2 linked regions of the Homo sapiens genome follow. The protein of the gene in region 2 interacts with the protein of the main gene of each other region in a pairwise test. Each region holds a gene or a part of one and is shown on either strand. Other genes may lie near its edges.

The links. The genes of interacting proteins can lie anywhere in the genome.
Region 1: the proteins of RSRC2 (region 2) and CTAG1B interact in binary tests that used the Homo sapiens proteins (3 or more experiments, as listed by UniProt).

The regions. Positions count from the first base shown.
Region 1 is NC_000023.11:154,617,222-154,620,821, forward strand, and holds CTAG1B (cancer/testis antigen 1), read right to left. Parts: upstream 2,062-3,600; 5' UTR 1,998-2,061; coding exon 1,729-1,997; intron 1,053-1,728; coding exon 918-1,052; intron 679-917; coding exon 540-678; 3' UTR 388-539; downstream 1-387.
Region 2 is NC_000012.12:122,525,279-122,529,221, forward strand, and holds the start of RSRC2 (arginine/serine-rich coiled-coil protein 2), read right to left. Parts: upstream 1,659-3,943; 5' UTR 1,576-1,658; coding exon 1,570-1,575; intron 1-1,569.

The sequences.
Region 1 (3,600 bases), on a different chromosome or scaffold from region 2:
TTAACAGTGATATGATAATGCTGGTTCTATGCATCTATTCAAGTACGTTTTCAAAGAATTTTTCCCAAGTAAAAAAGCTCATATGTTCAATGAAAACAATTTGGGAAAAAATTTAATGCTGACCTGGAAAAACATTATATATGCTACTGTCATATATTTAACATATAAATGCAAGTATATTGAGGAAAATATTCTAAAATGTCCACAGTAGTTAATGCTGAATGGCGGGACCCAGTGGCTTTTCATTTTCCCCCATTTCCCAAATTGCCTCCCGTTACCTTGTGCTACTTCAATCTGTGAATCCCAGAGCCTCCCCTGCAACCCGAGGACAAGGGCATGCAAGTCCGAAGGTGCCTTCGCTCGCCGAAAAGAGACTCAGACACGGAATCGTAGCTCAGTTTTATTTTCTACAGAAACAAACATGTAAGCCGTCCTCCTCCAGCGACAAACAATCAGGCCCCCACAATGAACTGGCCACTCGTGCTGGGACCATTCCCTAGGGGAGGAGGCATGACCTAGGAAGGGGCGCCAGGCTGGGCTTAGCGCCTCTGCCCTGAGGGAGGCTGAGCCAAAAACACGGGCAGAAAGCACTGCGTGATCCACATCAACAGGGAAAGCTGCTGGAGACAGGAGCTGATGGAGAGCTGCAGTTGGCGGTGGTCTGCAGCAGTCAGTCGGCTAAATGTGAGGGGCAGAGAACATCACGTTAAAGGCGACACCTCTGCACCCATCTCCCTGGGCTCCCTCGGGTGGCGGCGGGCCTGGTGTACCAGGTCTCTGTTCTGAGACCCTGTGCTGGGGTGTTCCCAGGTTTCTAGCAGCCTGACCGTGGGGTGTAGGCGGATCCCAGCCCCCACCCTGCCACGCTGTGACCGCCACCCACCCAGGCCCCATCCCTGTCCTGGTCCTGAACTGACATAGTCAGTATGTTGCCGGACACAGTGAACTCCTTCAGAAGCACCCCTGGCACGGGAAGCGGTGGGGCATCCTGGGCCAGGCTCCTGCGGGCCAGCTCTGCTTCCATGGGTGTCGCGAAAGGCATGGCGAGGTAGCTGGTGGGGGCCCAGTTAAGGCATCCTCTCCTAGGACTTGGCCTGTGGCTCCGGCCTGCTGCTTACCCCAGGCCAGCTTCCCCCTCCCCCACTCCCCCACCCCTCCCCCCTACCCCGGATTGCCCAGCCCATCCCCCCCAGGCTGTCTCCCCAGGCACTGGCCCAGTAGCACACCCCACCCAGCTGTCTTGGTTCCCCACTTTCCTTTGCTGCACCCCAAGCTGACTCCTCCATGCCCTTACAAGACCCCTCCCCACCCTGCCCCCTGTGGCATCACCCGGCCCCCTCCTCATCACTCGACCCTCCATCCCAACCACCTCCCGCCACCCGCTCCCATCTTGCCCCCTTCCCCCCACCTCCTGATCCCCTCCTACACCTGGGTCCCCCTATCTCCTGGCCCCTGCTCCCCTCCCCGCATGACCCGGTGCCCCTCACCCAATCACCCAGCCCCTCTCCCCCACCCCCACCCCCTCTACCTCCCAGCCCTTACCTCCTCCCCTCCTCGCAGCTGGCCTCTCATATCCCCACCTCCCAACCCCCACCCCCACCCCCACCCAACCACTTACTCGCATCTCCCCCGCCTCCTCCCCCACCTGGCCCTGCCCTCCCCATCTCCCGGCCCCCACCTCGCCACCAGAACTGTCAGAACAGAACAGAACAGAACAGAACAGAATACAACTCAAGCAGGCGGCTCTCCGGCCCCCTGGCCCCGCATCTGCAGCATCCATTCAGCCCTGAAGCCGCGCCGCCATGCGGACCCCGCGGGGCGCCTCCTCCCGGCCCCGAGGCCCTTGCTGCCCCTGCGCCCCGGGGACCTCTGCCGCCCGTGGCACCCGCCTCTCCTGGGCCGCCAGCATTGCCCCCTGGGCCATCAGGAATGCCAGGGCCTCCTGGGCCATCAGCATCGCCCGTCGAACCCCCTGTGCCCCGGCCTTCGGCCTGCATGGCTCCGGAGCCTCTGCCCGGCTCTCAGAGAGAAGGTCAGGGCCCACGAGGATGCGGAGGCAGAGAGGCTGCAGGAAGTTCCGCCCCCTGGCGTGAGATGGGCAGCCCGGGATCCTCAGGGCGCCTGCGCACAGGGGCCCTACTTCCGGCCCTGGGAGACCCCGAGTGAGCCCCGGAGCACGTGACCGGTTCTCACCAACCCCGCCCCTCCCCAAGAGAGCCCGGGCCGGAAGGTGGCCGCAATGCCAGCTTGGACCCCTCACCCCTGAGCAGCCGGCTGTCCGCCGGACCCCTGTCCCGGGAGCCCTGCAGGGAGTCAGGCACTGCGGGGCCCAGCCTGTCCCATCCCCCGGGTCTCCCTCACATCGAGGAGCAAGACGGGCCTGGGAACACGGGGCCGGGACTGTGCGGCCATCGTCCCGGACCCTGCCTGCCCTGTCCGTCCTTGGGGGAGCGCCCAGGACAGACCCCGGGGGGCAGGCCTCTAACTGGGCTCAGCAGCCTCCGTCCCTGTCCTGGTCGCCCAGCTGGTGGGGTAGCTGGAACTGCATGTCTGGTGGGCGTGGCCTCGCGCCAGCCAAGGTCTCCCAGGCGCCAGGTCCAGCCAAGGTGGACGGGAGGGCCCAGCGGGACCCGGGGCCGGATCTCACTCCTGGGTTCAACGGGTTCTGTCCCTGTCCTAGTCGCCCCGCCTGGTGGGGGAGCTGGAGCTGCGTGTGGGGTGGGTTGCGGGTGGCCTCCCACCAGCCAGGGGCTCCCGGGCTCTAGGCCTGGCCCAGGTGGACAGGCGGGACCTGCTGGACCTGAGGCTGGGTCGGGCCTGGCTCCTGGGTTCGGCAGTATCAGTCCCTGCCCTGGTCGCTCTTGCCTGGTAGGGAGCTGGGAGGTGACCCTGTGTCTGCTCAGTGGTGATCTATTTGTGTGTCTGGAAGGGGGTCAAATCCACGGGACAGGTACCTCTAGAGGCATGCAGGGGTGAGGGCGGCACGGCCCCGGGAGCTGAATGTCTGTGCCAGGCACACCTGTAGCAACAGGAGGTGACCAGACAGGGCCTAGCCCTGAGGAAGGGGGAGGTACTGAAATCCAAACCACTCTCCCCCACCTTCCAAATCCAGGAATCAGCAGCCTCTGCACCTGGGAAAAGCATATTGGCACTCATGTGGAAACTAAAAACGTTGATCTTTTGGAGGTAGAGCAGAATGATGGTTACCAGACGCTGGGAAAGGTGGGGAGGGTGGGGAGGTTAATGGGGACAAACATATAGTTGCATAGAAGGATTAAGTTCTAGTGTTTGATAGCACCGTAGAGGGACTATAGGTAATTATTTATTGTATATTTCAAAATAGCTAAAAGATAGGAAATGTTCCCCAAAAAAAGAAATGATAAATGCTTGAGGTGGTGGAGATCCTAAATACCCCGACTTGATCATTACATCGTGTGTGCGTGTGCATGTATCAGAATATCACATGTATCCCATAAATATGCAGAGTTATCATACATCAGTTAAAAATGTTTTTACTTACAGAAAAGAAAAATTCACCCAAGCTCTTGCGTGTACCTCCAGTTTATTATTTTCACTGCTGTATTTCATTACATATATTTC
Region 2 (3,943 bases):
GGCAGGAGAATCGCTTGAACCCGGGAGGCGGAGGTTGCAGTGAGCCAAGATCGCGCCATCGCACTCCAGCCTGGGCGACAAGAGCAAAACTCCGTCTCGAAAAAATACAAAAAAACCTGCAACCCAAGAAAAATAGTATTACTCTTTAAGTATACTGAGGCCCAAAACACTAAACAAAGGAAGACAGTAAAAGAAACGGGTTTAAACTCAATCACCTAAATAATAGAGGGGTATGGGGGAAAAAGAAAATCATCTGCCTAATCCCAGGCATTCCAATCGTTAGGAAGAGCAAACTTTAAAACTATCACTATGTTTAAGAGTCATAATTATTATCGAAAATGATGTAATTTTTTAGTCAGTAAAAAGGAATGCAAAATCTTTACATTTTCCTTTTAACGGAATAAAAATGAGGTAAGCACAAAATAATGTGGATCCGTCAGAATTGGGTATCTTATACACACGCAGGCTTATTGTTCAGAATAGATAATTTACGAACTGTAGCTCCTCTGGGGTCAACGAAGAGTTTTTTTTTTTTTTTTTTTTTTTTTTTTTTTTTTTTTTGAGACGGAGTCTCGCTCTGTCACCCAGGCTGGAGTGCAGTGGCGGGATCTCGGTTCACTGCAAGCTCCGCCTCCCGGGTTCACGCCATTCTCCTGCCTCAGCCTCCCAAGTAGCTGGGACTACAGGCGTCCGCCACTACGCCCGGCTAATTTTTTTGTATTTTTAGTAGAGACAGGGTTTCACCGTTTTAGCCGGGATGGTCTCGATCTCCTGACCTCGTGATCCGCCCGCCTCGGCCTCCCAAAGTGCTGGGATTACAGGCGTGAGCCACCGCGCCCGGCCAACGAAGGGTTTAAATTTAAAGGAACAAGGTCAGTGACAAGACTTAACTGTAACGCTTCTCGGACTTCAAATTGATTACATCACGGGCCACTTCGGAAACCGCGCATCAGTCAGAATTGGTAGTTCCACAACCTTTTAAGTTGAATTTTCACTCCCTTTCAGCAATACCTTCCTAGCTCGTTAATACACAATAATAAGGTTTACACGGACGAACACTAATTGAAATTATGCAACTAGAAGCATCTCATTGAGCGTACAAAAAAAAAAATAGCTACAAGTCGCTCTCTTCTCCCACACTACCCTTTACAGACACTGCCTTTTTGACCCAATACTTTTCAGAGACCACTCCTGATCGTCTTTCTCTTCCCCAGCCCCTTTCTCCACCGCAAATTCTCAGGCCCTAAAAAAAACTTAGAATAAATCACTAGCCAGGGTGAATAAGCGAAAATGGAGGAAGTTCAGTGAGGCGAAAGGAACGTAGGGTTGGGGAAGAGAGGAGGAAAGTTCTGGAAAAAAAAAGGCACTCCCTGCGGCTCCCCACCCCCACCAACACCGCCTTACTTCCCCCTCCCTACAGCAGGCAGCCATGATGGCGGGCGCAGAAGAAGGCCGCGGCGCCATTTTGTCTACACACATACACACGAACAAGGTTCTGGGAGCCGTTCACCCACTGTTGGAACGTAGCAGAAAAATATCCCTGGCTTTAAACTCAGATTCGGTACCTACCGCCATAGTTCAGAGTCCCGGCCGCTAGAGCGGCGCCTCCACTTGTCGCTTTCAACAGTACCGGCCGCTCCGAAGCTTCGCCTCAGACTAAATCGCTCGCGCGAGAGACCCGGATGGCACAAAGGCGAGGAGGCCCGGCGCGTCGCACAGCTTGCTGGGAGAAAAAGGGGCGGTAACAAAAGTTTCTATAACAACGCAATTCGAGGCGGTGATTGGGTGTTCTTTCATAGGGGAGTGTAAAGACCGTGAAGAGGGCGGGGCCAAGAATACACCCCCGGAATGCGCAGTCGGGAGAACGGAATGGGCGGAACTCAGGGTGGGGCAACTTCCTATTTCGAGTCTAAAGTAATCTTGGTCTCTTCCGGCCGCCGTAAAGGGGTTGGGTTTAGTGTTCTCCCGCCAATTTAAGCCTGTGGCATGGAACCTAAAGACTAGAGGCGGTTGTGTGAGTCAGGAAGAGGGGCCAGATATCTGAGTGTTCCTCTTTAGTTTCTTCAATTGCAGGTGAGGACGGGGAGCTGCGCTGTGTAGGGAACTGGGGGTGGGTTCAGGACGAAGTAGCTGCAGCCTCTGCTCAGTTCCTGTTGTTTTCCCCTTGACGCTGGCAGGAGAGAGGTTGGAGTCGGTTTTTGCTGGCGGCGATGTCCAGCGGAGAGCGTTTAAGTATGGAGGCCTAACTGACAAGTGTTTCATCTTGCTCATTCTCTCGTATTCGCGAATCTGTTCTGCATTCCGCCGCCAGAGTGATCTCAAAATTATAAAATCAGACCACTCGTTTGCTGAGTTCCCCTTCTACCCCTTGTACTGAGAATAAAATTCAATCTTGAGGTCGAGGTTTTATTGGACTCCACTGCTCTCTCCCTCACTGTCTTCTGCTTTTGCTTTGACCCGGCAGCAGCATCAAACGCTTCCTACCCAGCCTCCGAGTCTTTGCACTCTGTTCCCTCTGCCTACGTCGCGTTCCGCCTAAGTTTTGCGTACTTCTTGTTATTCAGGTCTCAGCTCAGATGTCACCTCCTTCCCTTCCCAAACAAATCCTTCTTCAGCGACGCCTCACCTTATCCATTTAATCACTGTTTCCTTCAAATCATTTAGCACTTTTTGTAATTATTTGTGCAGTTGCTTTTTTGTGGAGGTAGCATAACAAGATACGTATTAACAATTTTATTTTTGTCCGTTTTTCCCGCAAAAACATAAACTTCATAATGGCAAAGACATTTTGTGTTCTGTTCAAGCTATATTCCCAGTTCCTAGAAAGGTGTCTGGCACATAGTAAATAGGTATTCAATAAACATTTGTTGAATAAGTAAATATGGCAGTTACGGGCGGTTTCTCTATTTCACAGATGTGGGAAATTGAGACCCATAAAGGTATTCATTCCAACCTGTCCCTCCTTCTTCATCTCCTCACTCCCACCCAAACACCAGCCACTGAAACTTCTCTATTCTCCAAACATGTTTTGTTTCTGTTCCCTTGCTTATGCTCTTAGGAAGAACTCTTTAAACATTTATAAAACTATGATCTTCAATTCTCAGCCCAATAACAAATTAGCTAACACCTAAAATTGAATGTTTGCCATCAACCAAGCATTGTTCTGTGAACATTTAAAACTCAAAACATTTGGAGGCTGAAGCAGAAGGATTGCTTGAGCCCAGGAGATCAAGGCCAGCCAGGGCAAAATAGTGAGACCCTCGTCTCTCAAAAAACCAGAAGTGAAAAATAGAAAACTCCTTCAGGTGGGTACAACTAAATTAGTCCCTTGGTATTGGTATCCATGGGAGATTGGTTCCAGGACCTCCCACAGATACCAAAACCCTAGGATGCTTAAGTCCCTGTCATTAAATGGCATAGTATTTGCATGTAGCCTAGGAACATCTGCCTGTATACTTTAAATCATCTCTTGATTTCTTATCTTGCGTAACAGTGTAAATGTGCTATGCCTGTAGGTGCAATCTAGGGATGTGGAACACATGGATATTGACGGCAAACTGTATATATATATTTTTTTTCCAAGACGGAGTTTCACTCTTGTTGCCCAAGCTGGAGTGCAAGTGGCACGATCTCGACTTACTGCAACCTCCGCCTCCCGGGTTCAAGCAATTCTACAGCCTCAGCCTCCTGAGTAGCTGGGATTACAGGCGCACACCACCACGCCCGGCTAATTTTTTGTGTTTTTAGTAGAGAGGGGGTTTCGTCATGTTGGCCAGGCTGGTCTCAAACTCCTGACCTCAGATAATCCACCTGCCTAAGCCTCCCAAAGTTCTGGGATTACAGGTGTGAGCCACCGCGCCGGCCTGGTCTGTATATTCCTATTTTATAAATTAGAGAATTGAGGAACAGAAAGATTAAGTGATCACCCAAGGACAGCTGCCTA